Regions from separate parts of the Homo sapiens genome. Here region 1 is linked to region 2. A link means that fine-mapping ties the variant in region 2 to the expression of a gene that starts in the linked region. Tissue or cell type: visceral fat. Region 2 holds a variant in brackets; the other region holds the start of a gene. All regions are shown on one strand. Distances are between the middles of the regions.

Region 1 (8,082 bases), 180 kb before region 2:
TTTTTTACACTGCCCAAAACTCTCTCTGCTCAGTGCTGGGCACTGGAAAACAATGGCCCTCTCTCTGGAAACCACTATCTGCCATCTCAAGGGCCCACTACAGGTCTGCCCAGCATTTTCATCCCTTCCTCAAGTCTGGTGCCCAGGACCCTCCTCTGCTCTGACAGCCAGGCAGCAGCACTCAAACTCCCCTCCCCTCTTAGCCTTCATACCTTCAGCTGCACTTCTGCCTCTGCAGTGTCAGGATGACCTCCCCTTCCTCCTGTCCTTCCTCATTCTTAAGACTTCCTACCCCTTCTGGATTAATTTATGGAAAACCTAAATAATCTCTTTCAAATTTTAGCCCACTTTTTACATGTAGATTGTTTTATAAGATGAATTTTAACAAACCTTTTCTAAGTTGTTCAACCATTTTCTTTTGTCTTTTTGTTATTTTATTTCCTGAATTTAAAATATTTGAAAACCTCTAAACTTGACAAAACTAATTTTTTCATAAAAGCTATGTTCTCATGTCCTTTTATAAACTTTGACTTAAAATATATTTTACTTGTTCAGTCAGATTTGTGTGTGAAAATTTTTAAGTAGCTTTAGATACAAATATTAATTATAATGGTAACTCTTAAGTATGCATTTTTAGTAAACCACTTAGGAGACAACCAATTTTAATTATGTCCTTGATGTAGAGCTTAAAGAAAAAGATGGAGCTGTAGAAAACATCTTAGTCTTGAAATATCTTACTCTTCCCAGTATAAGGGGGGGCATGGCCCTATTTCACAGGTGCCCAGGCCTTAGCTAGAAATGGATGGTTCCAAGACATGTCAAAAAACTGTTTGAAAGGTTTTAGAAGTTGTTAATGACATGAAAATATTTAGTAAAGGCAGTATTTGATCTGTCTAATTTGGATCCAATATCTAAACTCTGAAGACATATTTATTTTATTTTGCTAATTTTAAAAGTGGCTTTATTTTTTAAAATAATGTTTATGTTTCTTTCAATAGTGTGTGGAATATATGTGGTTTTTGGTTATGTGGATAAAAGTTCCTTAGTGGTAATTTCTGAGATTTTGAGGCATCTGTCTCCTGAGCAGTGTATAATATACCCAATATGTCATCATTTATTCCTCATCCCCCTCCCAACCTTTCCCCGAGTCCCCAAGTCCATTATATCATTCTTATGCCTTTGCATTCTCATAGCTTAACTCTCATTTAAAAGTGAAAACATTCAATATTTGATTTGCCATTCCTCAGTTACTTCACTTAGAATAATGGCTTCCAGTTCCATCCAACTTGTTGCAAAGGACATTATTTTGTTCCTTTTTATTATCAAGTATTATTCCATGGTGTACCACATTTGCTTTATCCACTCGTTCGTTGATGGGCACTTAAGTTGGTCCCATATCACTGCAATTGCGAATCGGCTGCTATAAACATCCATATTCTTGTGTCTTTTTTATGGAATAACTTCTTTTCCTTTGGGTAGATAGCCAGTAATGGGATTGCTGGAATGAATGGTCTACTTTTAGTTCTTTAAGGAATCCCCATACTGTTTACCATAGTGGTCGGACTAGTTTAAATTCCCACTAGCAGTGTCAAAGTGCTCCCTTTTGACCACATCTATGCCAACATCTATTGTTTTCTGACTTTTAAATTATGGGCTTCTAGCAAGATTAAGATAGCATCTCATTGTGGTTTTGTTGTGGGATTTAGGAGGATGAGAGAGAGGCTTTGGGTTAAAACAGGAGAATCTTTTATTGAGTGCTCTCAGGCCCAGCAGACTCACGTCCAAAGACAGGGCCTGGAACAAAGACAGCACTTGACTTTTATACACACTTCACAAAAGGGGGTGGGCCAGCTTGAAGCAAGCTTACAGTGGTGTGAAAGCAGGGATACAGAGGCAGGAAAAAGACAGTTAATCAAATTGTAACAGGTTCATAACTCAGGATTGCACATAACTGTTGCTATGCAACCCAGATGTCTATTATCTAGGTTTTGCTCTAAAGAGGCTTGCATTGGTTTATCTTCACTATGGTGCCTAGAGAGCTGTAGTTCAGGCCTGCTCAGGCTTCTCATGACCTTTGCCATACTTCTTAGATAAAACAGAATACTTGAAGTTACTAGTTAAAGAGAACAAGAATCTATAAACTCATACCATAAAACAAAGGAAAATTTGTTTTTCTTCTCCCTACATTGAAGGAGTGCTGGAAGAGTCTCCAGAATACAATAAATAATATTATCAAGACTTTTCCTGGGTCTGGGCTGTGCCTGTTGCTGCCTCTGGGACAAGTTAGCTTAATACAAGAAAGCTTATTTCCCTTTCTTTTTAATTTTATTTTTCTTTAATTTCCCACCTCAGTTTTACTTTGCATTTCCCTGAGAATTTTTAATAAGTAAAATACTTAGAAATATACTTAACCAAGTAGGTTAATGTAAGTTTCCTACAAGGAAAACTACAAAATAGTGCTGAAAGAAATCACAGTTGACACAAACAAATGGGAACACATTATAAGCTTATGAATAGGTAGAATCAATATTGTGAAAGTGACCATACTCTCCAAAGCCATCTACAGAGCAGTAGAATTCTCATCAAAATATCATCATTCTCCTTCCCAGAACTAGAAAAAAGAATCCTAAAATTTATACAAAACCAAAAACGTGACCGCATATCCAAAGCAATACTTTGCAAAAAGAACAAATCTGAAGGCAGGCTTTAAATTATACTACAAGGCTACAATCACCAAAATAGCATGATACTGGTATAAAATATGCACATAGAGCAATAGAACAGAATAGAGAACCCAGAAATAAAGCCAAATGCTTACAGACAACTAATCTTCAACAAAGTACACAAAAACATTAATTGGGGAAAGGATACTTTATTCAATAAATGGTGCAGGAAGTATAAAAATAGGCACATAGAGCAATGGAACAGAATAGAGAACCCAGAAATAAAGCCAAATGCTTACAGACAACTAATCTTCAACAAAGTATGCAAAAACACTAATTGGGGAAAGGACACTTTATTCAATAAATGGTGCAGGAAGTATAAAAATAGGCACATAGAGCAATGGAACAGAATAGAGAACCGAGAAACAAAGCCCGGTACTTTCAGTCACCTGATCTTTAACAAAGCATATAAAAACTTCCATCTAAGACCTGAAAGTCTAAAAATGCTACAAGATAGCATCCAAAAAGCTTTTCTAGACATTGGCTTAGGCCAAGTAGTCATGACTAATGCCCCAAAAGCAAACGCAAAAATATAAAAATAGAATAAGATCAATAGGACCTAATGAAACCGAAAATCTTCTGCAAGGCAGAAGAAATATCAGCAGGGTAAACACACAACCCACAGTATAGGAAACAGTAGTCACAAACTAGGCATCTGACAAAGGACTAATGTCCAGACTCCAAAGGAACTGAAAGAAATCAGCAAGAAGAAAAGGTGCCATTTACCACCTTCCTGACTCATTGGCCAGAACCAATGTTAGTGGAATTAACATATGCCCCACCCCAAGTGACTTCTAAAGGGCTAACTCACCACAAGGGAGTCAGAGCAGATCTTGGACTGAGACCTACAGGACACAGGTACTGCTTTTTCTCTTTTATTTGTTTTAAATTTTATTTATGTTTTTAGATCAAATAGTTCAGATTGCATTGGTTTTTAATCTGCTGTTGTTGGATTAACATATGCTTTAAGCGACTCTTAAATAGGTGGCTCACCAGGAGAAAGGCATAGCAGAACCTGGACTGAGACCTACGGGAGACAGGTATTGCTTTTTCTCTTCTAATCATTTTAAATTTAATTTACCATCTTTCATCAAATAGCTCCGATCATATCATTATTTTTTCTTTTCTGTTTTGTTGGTGGTTTTATTGGTGGAGTTTTATTTTACTATTTTAGAAAAGCAGTCTTTTAAAAAAGACTTTTAAAAAGTTTTATTACTCTTTTTTTTAAAAAAATTATGTTTTCCCTTGATGTGCTTATTTCCTTTATAAAGATCATCACCATTAAATTACTAGGAGATACTGCGGCTGATTTTGTCATGCGTGAGATAAGAAATTTTTTGCCAAAGCAATTAGTGATGAGTGCAATGGAAAAATCCGTGATGATCTTTTAAGATGATTAACTTTCTAATCCAGAAAATGCTGCTGTTTGTACTGAACAAAATAGCTTTATTTTTATATGACCAGGGGTACATAAAATGCTTCAAAACAACACATAATTTGGCAAAAATACTATGTCTTGCCAGCCAGAAGAATAAGTGTGGTTTTATTTCTATGTATATGTCTAGTACCATGCCTGCACTAGAGTTGGGAAATTTTAAAAACATCACCTATTGATACAGAAGAGAAGTGCTGGGAAGGGAAGGGCATGGTCCCTTTGAATGATACAGAAAAGGTGAAGGAAAGTGATGGGTAGAGGAGGCCGGGGTCCCTGGCTAGGGCTCCAAACCTGGGCTTGTGCCCCTGGACCTAGATGAGGACAGGCATTTTTGTTTTCCTGACCAAATGTTGCATTTCCCAAGATCACCCTGGCCCACCATGCCCTATCCTGTGCCTAAAAAAACCCTGGGACCCTAGCAGGCAGACACACAGGAGGTTGGACGTCGAGAGGAGCACATCAGTGCAAGAACACATGGGTGGCTGCCACTTCTCTCCCTTTCCTGAGAGGGAAAAACTCTCGACGCTGAGAGGAATCCACCAACAGGCACCAGCACTCTGGCAGGCCACCGACCAATGGATTGACATAGAGTTTGGCTGGGGCAGCCAGAGGAGAGCCTGGGCCGCTGAATAACCCGACTTCAGGGGAAAACTATTCTCCCTTTTGGCTCCCCCATCTGCTGAGAGCTACTTCCACTCAATAAAACCTTGCACTCATTCTCCAAGACCACGTGTGATTTGATTTTTCTGGTACACCTAGGTAACAACCGCGGGATACAGAAAGCCCTCTGTCTTTGGGTTAAGGAATGGGTCTAATTGAGCTGGTTACCACAAAGCCACCTATAGATGGCAAAACTAAAAGAGCACATGGTACCACATGTCCACTGGGGCTTCAGCAGCTGTAAACATCTACCCCTAGATGCTGCCATGGGGTTGTAGCCCCACAACTTGCCAGTCTGTATGCTTCCCTAGAGGTTTGAGCAGCGGAGTACTAAAGAAGCAAGCCACACCCCCACTCCACCTCCTGTGAGGGGGACAAGGAAACTTTTCCCATTTCAACTGGTGGCTCGTCTGGGATCTCGGAAGGTGAGTGTGAGTGAATGGGAAACTGTTGGGCCTGCCTTTCTTCCAAAACTCTGCCACTTCTCTCCCTTTCCTGCAGGTAAAAGACTCTGTTTTCCTTTCATCTCTTTTCTCTCTCACACATTATTTGAAATGGATCTTATCTCTTCCTTTATAATGTTAAGAGTTTTGCTACAGGCTGAGGCAATGTTACTAAGTAAAATGAGCATTTGGCTCAGCCGCCAAAGGTGCAAATCAGACCAATTTTTCCTAGAGGTGCCATGTATGCCTCCACCTTGACAGCCCCAGGCATGAGCGGCTTCCAGGGCACCTCTCCTTACCCTTTTCCCTCCCAGCTCCAGCACCTAGGCATGCCTGCAGCAGGCAAAGGCCACACCCAATAGCCATGAAGGGGCAGGGGGAGCAATGTCGCAGAAGTGTCTCCCTCCACTGCCTGGGATGAGGGGGGTGTGAGAAAACCGATGGTAGCCAGGACCCTACAGAGTGCTTCTCACCCACTGCATCAATGGAACCTTTCCTTCCATGGCCAAGGAATTCAACCTGGTCTGAACTGGGGGAAGGATGGGAAAGTTATAAGGATTAGAGGGGCCCACTTGCACTAAGCAAGGGGTTCTTCCCCCAGCATTCCCCACTTTTTGCCTCTTTAACTGTTTTTCTCTTTTTTTCTTTTCTAAGTGAGAATCCCCACCGCTCTGTTTCTAATAGGGAAGTTAACAGAGGAGTGACCCCTGCTGGCTGATAATTGCAAATTCAGCAGGGCTTATTTGAGGCACTAAATGGATATAAACAGCCTCTGAAATGCTTTTTCAGTCCCAAACTCAATTCCAAGCTTCAGGCTGAGGCCCTAGAAAGAGAAAGCAGGTCTGAGGAATTCAAAGCCAGGCAACAGGCACAATGTAAATGGACAGGACCAATTCCTGCTGACTGAACCCCATCCCACAGAAGGAGGCCATGCCTCATGGGATAAAAAGGCCCAGGGAACTCAAAGTTTTTCAACAGCAGGGAGAAAAGGAAACATAGGTGAGGGCAGTTAATTCCTAATCTCCAGGTTCTCCCTGCTTCATGGGTACATACCGCATTTGTACCTGTGGCCGGCACCTGCCAAGGTTGCCAGGGCGCAGGGGTAAGAGGTGGAAAGTGAAGTGAAGATGCTTGCTTTCCCTCCCCATCACACCCTGAGCTTTTTGCCAAAAGAAGGAAGGGAAATGAGGAACACCTCTATTCCCTGTCTTTCAGAATGGGCAGCCAGTTCTCCTCACCACCCCCAGCTTGTACTCCCCTTGAGTGTATCCTGAACCATTGGGACTGTTTTGACCCTCAGAATCCAGAGGAAAAGCATCTCATAGCCCTCCGCACATAGGTTTGGCCAAATTATGGTTTACAGGAAGGACTGGCTTGGCTTCAGGAAGGGACCATTCATTTCAATACCATCCTGCAATTAGAACTTTTCTCTGGATGTGAGGACACATGGTCTGAGGCCCCAAATGTGCAGGCTTTCTATACCTTGCAAAGCAATCCAGACCTTTGCTGACATGTAGGATTGTTCCAGCCCTCCTGTTTGCTGTCTCGGGGAAGGCTGCCAGGGTCAAGCCCAGGGAATTAAAGACACGAGTCCCAGACGCACCCCCAGCTGACGTGCCAGCTCCCTCAAGCCCTGCTCCTCTGGGTCCACCCCAACCTCCGTATCCAGCTTCAGCCTCTCACCTGGCCCCTCCTAGAAATCTTCATCCCAAACAAGCCCAGTCTCACTCTTGCCCCTCCTACAGATGCCCAGTGAATTTGGGCCCAGTAAGGTCCAAGTCCTCTTTTCCCTACAAGACTTAAAGCAAATTAAGGGAGATCTGGGCAAGTGTTCAGATGACCCTGATAGATATATAGAAGCTTTCCAGAATTTCACCCTAACATTTGAACTCTCCTGGAGAGACGTTATGTTACTTTTGAGTCAGAACCTGATAGACACTGAGAAGCAGGCTGCTCTGCCAGCAGCAGAGAGATTTGGGGATGAGCTTTGCATCACCTATAGCATCAGGGAAGGGAGCGAATATTATCCAACTGGAAGAGAAGTAGCACCAGTGAAGGACCCTAAATGGGATCCCAATAATGAGATGGAAGACTGGAAGAGGAGACACTTTCAGGTGTGCATAATAGAGGGCTTACGTAGGTCTAAGACCAAGCCTCTCAATTATACTAAGTTGTCCATAATTAACCAGGGATTTGATGAAAATCCCACTGCCTTCCTGGAGAGGCTAAGAGAGGCCTTGGTAAATCACACCTCTCTATCTCCTAATTCAATCGAGGGACAGATAATCCTAAAGGATAAAATTATTACTCAGGCAGCTCCTGACATCAGGAGGAGGTTGCAGAAATGGGACTTGGGACCAGATAGTACATTAGAGGACCTCCTGAAAGTAGCCACCTCGATCTTTTATTATAGAGACCCCTGGGAGGAATCTGACTGCCGTTTTCCCCCAAAACAATGCCCCCTTTCAGCAGGAAGCAGCTAAGACTGGTCATCATCCATATTCTAATGGCAGTTAGATGTACCTCTTCAGAGGGGGCAAATGACATGAAAGTGAAGTGCTGGGATGGGAAGGGCATGATCCCTTTGAATGATATAGAAAAGGTGAAGGGAAGTGTTGGATACAGGAGGCTGTGGTCCCTGGCTAAAAGCTCCACACCTGGGCTTGTCCCCACGGACCTAGATGACAACAGGCATTTTTGTTTTCCTGACCGAATGTTGTCTTTCCCAAGATCATCCTGGCCTGCTAAGACCCATCCTGTGCTTATAAAAACCCCAAGACCCTAGCAGTCAGACACACAGGAGGCTTGACGTCGAGAGGAG
Region 2 (8,101 bases):
AGATCTAGAATGTGAGGTCAGGTGTTGACAAGAGCCCTGGAGGGAATAGAGCAGGGAAAGGTCAGAAAAGGAAGACCCAGGGTCTCTAGAGGAGGTGTCAGGGAAGGGATCTCCCAAGAATGCCCTGATGTGAGCAGGACCTGAAGGCAATGGGGAGGGAGCCGTGAAGACCCCTGGAAAAGCAGATTCCACACAGGGAAATGCCAAGGTCAGAGGTGCTAAGGAAATAGGAGACACACTGCTGACCTTGACCTAGTAGGACACACACACACACACACACACACACACACTCACTCACTCCAGGGCTGGGGGATGAAGAGACCTGCTCAGGACCCAGGACCCCATTTTTCCACCCTAATGCATAGGTCCCAATATTGACCGATGCTCTCTGCTCTCTCCTAGCCTCACTTCTAACCTTCTGGAACCCGCCCACCACTGCCAAGCTCACTATTGAATCCACGCCGTTCAATGTCGCAGAGGGGAAGGAGGTGCTTCTACTTGTCCACAATCTGCCCCAGCATCTTTTTGGCTACAGCTGGTACAAAGGTGAAAGAGTGGATGGCAACCGTCAAATTATAGGATATGTAATAGGAACTCAACAAGCTACCCCAGGGCCCGCATACAGTGGTCGAGAGATAATATACCCCAATGCATCCCTGCTGATCCAGAACATCATCCAGAATGACACAGGATTCTACACCCTACACGTCATAAAGTCAGATCTTGTGAATGAAGAAGCAACTGGCCAGTTCCGGGTATACCGTGAGTGATTCCCCCATGACCTCTGGGTGTTGGGGGTCAGTTCTACTTCCCACACACAGGATTATCAGGCCTGGGCTGTGCCTGTGGCCCCCTCTGCATTACGCACCATGTTAGGGTTTGGGCATTTAGTGCAGGATACACACAGAAGAGACAAACTTCAACAGATCAGAATTCCTTTCCGGCATCCAGACCCTGCAGACACTCACTGCAGAGGAAGGACAGTCTGATGTGGGGGACTTAGCAGGGGGAGGTCAGTCTCAGCCAAGCACCCCGTGCCCTCCCCGTAAACCTGACCCTGAGAAAGACCCTGGAGAACTGCATCAGAGCCTGGCCTGAGGGACCCCTGGGATATTCACAGAGAAGCTCAGCCCCAGGGCTCCTGGTTCCAGGTGACTCAGGGGAGCCTGTGCCAGGGCTGTGTTGTGGCCTCCTGGGCAAGGCTAACTGGAAGCAAGGACTTAGCAGCTGTCCAAGGGCTGTGGCTCCTGGAGCTGGATTCTGGATGCAGAATCGGACTTTCTGGCCACACTTGTTCCCTGTCCCCAGAGTCTCATTTGGACAAGGACAGAGCCTTGTCCTTTACTTGAGACTCAATGTGGGGAGGATAGATAGACAAGGTTATTAGGGTGTCAGTCCATTGCCCTGGGGACATAGGTGACTCCATGGGAAGCTCAGTGTCCCCAGGAAGAGGAACAGAGGAGAGAAGATGCTCCCGGCAGCTCCTTGTCCACCAGGGATCAGGCCCAGGGCCTTCTCTCTTGGAGGCAAATAAACATAAATGATGTTCATTTGAGCAGCTCCTCTGTGCAGAGCTGAGATCAAGTAATTGTAAATATTTTGAGGTTAATTCACAAACAACCTCACAGCCAAATAGCACTTATCCTACTTATTGAAAGGAAATTGAGGCACAGGGAGACAGTCACTAACAAGGGTCACACAGGCCATAGGTGTCAGATTGAAGTCACATGAGGTCTGTCTGTAGCCACAGCCCCCTCCTCTCCTCAACTGGGGGTGGGTGGGGCTGTTTGTTGTTAGGCATCTGCATCTGAGACCAGTCATGGGCTTGCGTTCTTTTGTCTTGGGCATCCACAGCTCAGAAGCGGAGATTCTGGTCTGGAGAGTGATAAGTAAATGGAGAAATAATCAGTTTTACTCTAGAACTAGATCACCTCAACAGTCAGGGTCAGTGCCGGGATTGTCCAGGCCTCTCCCTGAGATCCACAGCCCCCTCACATGACCTCAAATCCTGTGTTTCCCGATGTGTCAGTGTCACTCCCACGGAAGGATAAAGGAAAGGACTTCGCTTTCTCTCCCCACTCACACCCTGTGCCAACAGAGGCCCAAAGTGAGACACACGCTTGCTCAGTAGCTCTCTCATGAAGGGGGGAATGAGTGAAGGAATGATCCATAACCTCTATAGAGACTGGATCCTGGATGCAGAATCCTGGGAGGTTCTGACCACACCTGTTCCGTGTCCATCAGGGGCTGAGATCCATGTACCATTCCTCTGACCCCCTGTCCCGAAAGCCACCCTATCTCATGTGACTCTGGGGTTCCTTGGCCATGGGAGGGTTTTCAAGGCTCCCTGGTCCTGGTCGGGACAGCCAAGGGACTCCTAGTCCTGGGGTCTCCGAGGTCACTATACCCCGCATGGCTCATTGCCATGGGCATTTCTGACTTTCTTCTATTCCTCCATGTTCTTCGTCTTCCTCCCTCTTCATTCCAGCTGAGATGCCCATCCCTGAACATCTTCCTCCACTCTTAGGCCTTCCCCAGACACTCCCTTGAACAAGGCTGGCTGTCCTGTTTTCTTGCCGCTCACACTGTGTCCTGGCCCACTTCCCAGGCAATAGGGAAGGCACAGAAATCACAGGCAATAGGGAAGGCACAGATGGAGCCCCTGCCAGGCTCCATCACAAGCCAATGTCAACAGGTCACCAGGAGAATGAGCTTCCGCTGTGTTCCTGCCCAGGGCTCTTTACTTCCATGAGGCCAACACACGGAACAGGCAGCAGGACGGGAATGAGCGACTCCTCCATCCACTCCCTACACTGACTCACCAGGGGGTCAGAGGCAGAAGGACAGGTCTGCAGTCCCCAAAGCCCGCATGCTTATTTCACTCACTTCACTACCCACTCCATCTTCATCCTGGTGTGGGGCTCACATCCTCCAGTGGATCCTGGGACCTCCCCCAGGTGGAGCTGGCCAGGCAGGTGCTGTCTGATAGGTTTGCTGCCCATTCCACATACACCTGTGTCCTCATGATGATGCCATTGTCATAAGGTGGAGTCCCTTGGACTGAGAAGTGAACCAGCCACTGGCGTCTCACTTAGACTCTACCCAGTTACAAAAACTTAAACTCTAGTTGTGTTTTCTGAGGTTGATAGGAGAGGAAGAAAACCTTTCACATGCCTGTTTTGAGGCTTCTCCTCTTTTTGCCTAACTCTGCACAGGAACTAGGGGCAGGGAGCGCTTTCTAAATTTACTAACATCACACACATTGCTTCTCCTAACTTGGCATCATTTCTCCCTTTATGTAATTGACACACCTAAGAGTTCCTCTCTGACCGGTTCTGTCCTCTTAACAGGTCTCACATCCCTCTCTCTGTTCAGGGAGTCACTGATTTCAAACCACTTTCAGCATCTTCCTTTGAGCATAATGTGATCACTTTGGAATTCAGAGCAGACCTAAACCTTAGCATAATATTAAAAGAAGTACTACTTCCAGCAATTGATCTTAGATCTTTAGGCCATTGATAAGAATTTCCACTTATGGAAAAAATTTAATGTTTCCCCCAAATGTCTTTCACTTTTTTAACTATAGTCAGAAAATAAC[A/G]TGAGATCTAAACTCCTGACAAATTTTTAAGGGCAAATTATAGTACTACAGATTGAGTATCCCAAATCCTAAAATCCAAAATCTGAAATGCTCCAAAATCCAACATTTTTTGACCACTGACATGATTCTCAAAAGAAATGCTCACTGAAGGCCGGGCACGGTGGCTCATGCCTGTAATCCCAGCACTTCGGGAGGCCAAGGCGGGAAGATCACAAAGTCAAGAGATCAAGACCATCCTGGCCAACATGGTGAAACCCCGTCTCTACTAAAAATACAAAAATTAGCTGGGCGTGGTGGCATGCACCTACAGTCTCAGCTACTTTGGAGGCTGAGGCAGGAGAATCGCTTGAACCCGGGAGGTGGAGGTTGCAGTGAGCTGAGATCGTGCCACTGCACTCCAGCCTGGCAACAGAGCGAGACTCCATCTCAAAAAAAAGAAAAAGAAAGAAAAGAAAAGAAAAAAGAAAGGCTCACTGGAGCACTTTGGATTCCGTATTTTCAGATTTGGGGTGCTAAACTGGTAAGTATATTGCAAATATTCAAAACTCAAAAACAGTCAGAAATCCAAAACACTTTTAGTCCTAAGCCTTACACATAAGACATACTCAATCTGTATGAACTATAGGCACCAAGCTGAACAGCAGATCCCTAGAACCTCCTCATCCTGCATAACTGAAACTGCAGACCCATGAACAACTCTCCATTCCCCCAGTTCCCAGGCTTTGACAACCACCATTCTACTCTCTGATTCCACAAGTGTGACTACTCTAGGGACTTCATATAAGTGGAATCCTACAGTATCTGCCCTGTGAGTGGCTTATTTCATTTAGCATAATGTCCAATGGGAGAAAATAATTGCAAAACTTCTTCTCAAAGTTCTGTCTCATAACTGTCAAACACACATGGTCCTTGAGGGCCAGATTTCCAGCAGTTCATGCTCCCCCTTTTCCACCAGTCAGTTCTGCATTTGCAAATGTCCACATGTATTTATGGAGAGATCCACAGCATCCTCGCCTGCCCTCTGCAAGGGGAGAAGGGACATTAAAGACCAAAGACAGGCCGGGTGCAGTGGCTCATGCTTGTAATCCCAGCACTTTGGGAGGCCAAGGTGGGCAGAACACCTGAGGTCAGAAGTTCAAGACCAGCCTGACCAATATGGTGAAACCCCATCTCTACTAAAAATACAAAATTTAGCTGGGTGTGGTGGTGGGCGCCTGTAGTCCCAGCTACTCGGGAGGCTGAGACAGGAGAATCGCTTGAACCCGGGAGGCAGAGGTTGCCATGAGCCGAGATCGTGCCTGGCCAACACAGCAAGACTCCATCTCAAAAAACAAACAAACAAACAAAGACCAAAGACAAAGAACATACATATGGTTCTGCTGTTAAATCCGGGCAGCTCCTGCCTGTCACCTGAAGTTCTAGATCATTCCCTGGACTCCACTCTATCTTTAGGGGTCTCTGGCTCAAGTCAGTCATCATCAAACACCTGGGAAAAACTGCCCCACCTTGTGCCTCCACTGCCTAACGACTGAGCTGACCTCCAGGCTTGCCTCTGGTGTCCCCTGTGTTATTTCTACTGAAACATCCAGTCCCAGGCCAGGCTGCACAATATGTACAGGGTTTAAGGACAATGGGAAGACCCATCACTATCCATTTCTAGGATGTCCTTGCAAAGGGAAACCACAGAAAAAATATACCTAGGGAAACAAAGTAGGACTGAAGGTGGAAGGGACCCAGCACTTGAATGTTCCAGGTGAGGACCCTACAGTGGGCCAAGTAGTCAACTGGTCAGGGAGGGACCAGGAGAGGCACCAGGAGCTGTGACCTCCCCCCCAGTCCTGTGTCTGTTCACAGCCCAATGCTGCTGCTTAATTCACACTTGAGAAAGTCTGTGCTTCCCCCACACCGAGCAGGCAGCCTCGCAGTCTCTGAGATCTCAGATCATCGTGCATCTGTCTTGTGACACATGCACCCACCGTGGGTTTTTAAGGGCTCAGGTGGGCTGAGAGGTGGAAGGTGCCAACTCTGATTGAAAGATGCCTGTGAGGAATCAAAGGTGCCACACAGGGCAATCTTCTCTCTGTTATCTGCACAGCGGAGCTGCCCAAGCCCTCCATCTCCAGCAACAACTCCAAACCCGTGGAGGACAAGGATGCTGTGGCCTTCACCTGTGAACCTGAGACTCAGGACGCAACCTACCTGTGGTGGGTAAACAATCAGAGCCTCCCGGTCAGTCCCAGGCTGCAGCTGTCCAATGGCAACAGGACCCTCACTCTATTCAATGTCACAAGAAATGACACAGCAAGCTACAAATGTGAAACCCAGAACCCAGTGAGTGCCAGGCGCAGTGATTCAGTCATCCTGAATGTCCTCTGTGAGTATATCTGCTCCTCTCTGGCCCAGGCTGCCAGCCCAAATCCACAGGGCCAGAGGCAGGATTTCTCAGTCCCTCTCAGGTTCAAGTACACAGACCCTCAACCCTGGACATCCAGACTGTCTGTGACTTTCTGCCCCAGAAAAACCTGGGCAGACCAAGTCTTGACCAAGAATAGGAGGGGAGGGGCTGCTTCTGTCCTGGGAGGCTCAGGGTCCACACCCTATGATGGGAGAAACAGGTGAATATCTCAGACTCAGGCTCAGTAGATACAAGAGGGGTTTGGCTGAGACTTTAGGATTGTGATTCAGCTTAGAGGGACACTGTGGTCCTTCCATAGACCAGGAACTTCCACTTCCCTCTGACAATATCACCTGTGGCTTTATTTTGTTTGCTCCAGATGGCCCGGATGCCCCCACCATTTCCCCTCTAAACACATCTTACAGATCAGGGGAAAATCTGAACCTCTCCTGCCACGCAGCCTCTAACCCACCTGCACAGTACTCTTGGTTTGTCAATGGGACTTTCCAGCAATCCACCCAAGAGCTCTTTATCCCCAACATCACTGTGAATAATAGTGGATCCTATACGTGCCAAGCCCATAACTCAGACACTGGCCTCAATAGGACCACAGTCACGACGATCACAGTCTATGGTAAGTGGATCCACGAAGCACTGACATCATGTTTTGAGGTGGAGTCTGTCTGGTTTTCAAACAAGAGCCAGGAAGACATTTTCTATCCCAGCCTGTGTCCAGTGGGCACAAGCAAATCCCAGATTCTCCCACTGAACCTCCCCAATATGTCTCTACAGACTCTTTTCTTCTTGTTCTGATTTCTCATGGCGGGCCCCAGGTCCAGCTTGGAATGTGGGGAGGAGGCTCCCTCAGCCCCACAGCCCTGTGTAGTGGAGGAAGCTTCACAGAGCGGGAAGGAGCAAGGGTTCTCAAGGTCAAGTTGCTTCTCTCTGTCACCAATGTGTCCCTTTCTGTCACCTCTTTGTGTTCTTTTGCCTACTCCATGAGCTACAAGCAACATTCAAGGCTTTGAAACAAGCTCATACTTTTTTCCCAAATGAGAGAAGGAAGCCCCTTGGGTGAGGGAGACACAGCTCAGACTGCTCCCTGCTCTGCTCTGGGCTCCCCTGGGTGACTGGCCTTGCCTGACTCCACCTAGGTGGGAACGAGGTGTGTGGAGAAGGAGCCCGGGTGGTCTGTCCTGAATTCGGCTAAATCAAGCTGCCAATCAACACCAAAGCTTCCCTTCGTCCCAGTCAGGCTGCAGGAAAATGGAAAGAGAGGGAGCCTCAGGGCAGACTCCTGAGCTGCGTCCTGGCTCTGATGTCACCAGCTATATGAGGCTGTGGGCACAGCACATGGGACACAGCACAGGGGACAGCAAGTGACCCACACTTGGAGAAATCAGGAGATTCACCACAGGGGCTCTGCACGGCAGGGAATGGCAGTGTCAAAAATCGTGTGTTTATACAGATGGTAACAGTACATATCTAACACAAACTTACCATCTTAACTTTTCTACACATGCAGTTCAGTGGTATTAAATATATTCCCCTTGTTCTGCTTCCATCACCACCATCTACCCACAGGACTCTTTTCTTCCTCCCAAAATGAAACTCTGTTCCCATCAAACTCCTGGGCAGAGCTGCCCCATCTATGGCCCACAGTCTGATCCCTGACTTGTCACCTCTAGACATGCTCCTAGTCTCCTGCACTATTTCTGCTCAAACATCCATCTCCATCATCACCTATCTCTAGGATGTCCTTAAATAGCAAAGCCTCAGAGCAAACACAACTTGGCTGGGTGGTGTGGGACTGTGCAGCTGGAAGAAACGCAGCTCCTTCAAATTCCAGGTGAGGACCCCAATGGGCCAGGCAGCCAGCCAGTCAGGAAAGGACCAGAAGTGCTGGGGGCTGTGACCCCCAGCCCTGTGTCTGTCCACAACCCAATGCTACTGCCCAATTCACACTTGAGAAAGTCTGTGCTTCTCCCACACAAAACAGCCAGCCTCATGGTCTCTGAGCCCTCAGATCATTGTGCATCTGTCTTGTGACGCACACACACCTGCCATGAGCTTTTAAGGACTCAGTTGGGCTGAGAGGTGGGAGATGC

What was found. PIP is the estimated chance that this variant, and not a neighbour inherited with it, causes the effect.
Region 1: it holds the start of LINC01480, and the variant in region 2 is fine-mapped to the expression of LINC01480 in visceral fat (GTEx, PIP 0.98).

Annotation. Positions count from the first base shown.
Region 1 is chr19:41,532,021-41,540,102 of GRCh38, forward strand. It overlaps LINC01480 (long intergenic non-protein coding RNA 1480), which reads left to right and starts at 3,478. Exons shown (of 3, transcript NR_110724.1): 1 at 3,478-3,581; 2 at 3,694-3,763; 3 at 4,581-4,884.
Region 2 is chr19:41,709,278-41,717,378 of GRCh38, forward strand. It overlaps CEACAM5 (CEA cell adhesion molecule 5), which reads left to right. Exons shown (of 10, transcript NM_004363.6): 2 at 403-762; 3 at 5,694-5,972; 4 at 6,373-6,627. Among named protein-coding and RNA genes, the nearest start is that of CEACAM5, 4.7 kb to the left of the region's middle. The variant A/G (reference allele first, on the strand shown) is at 3,599.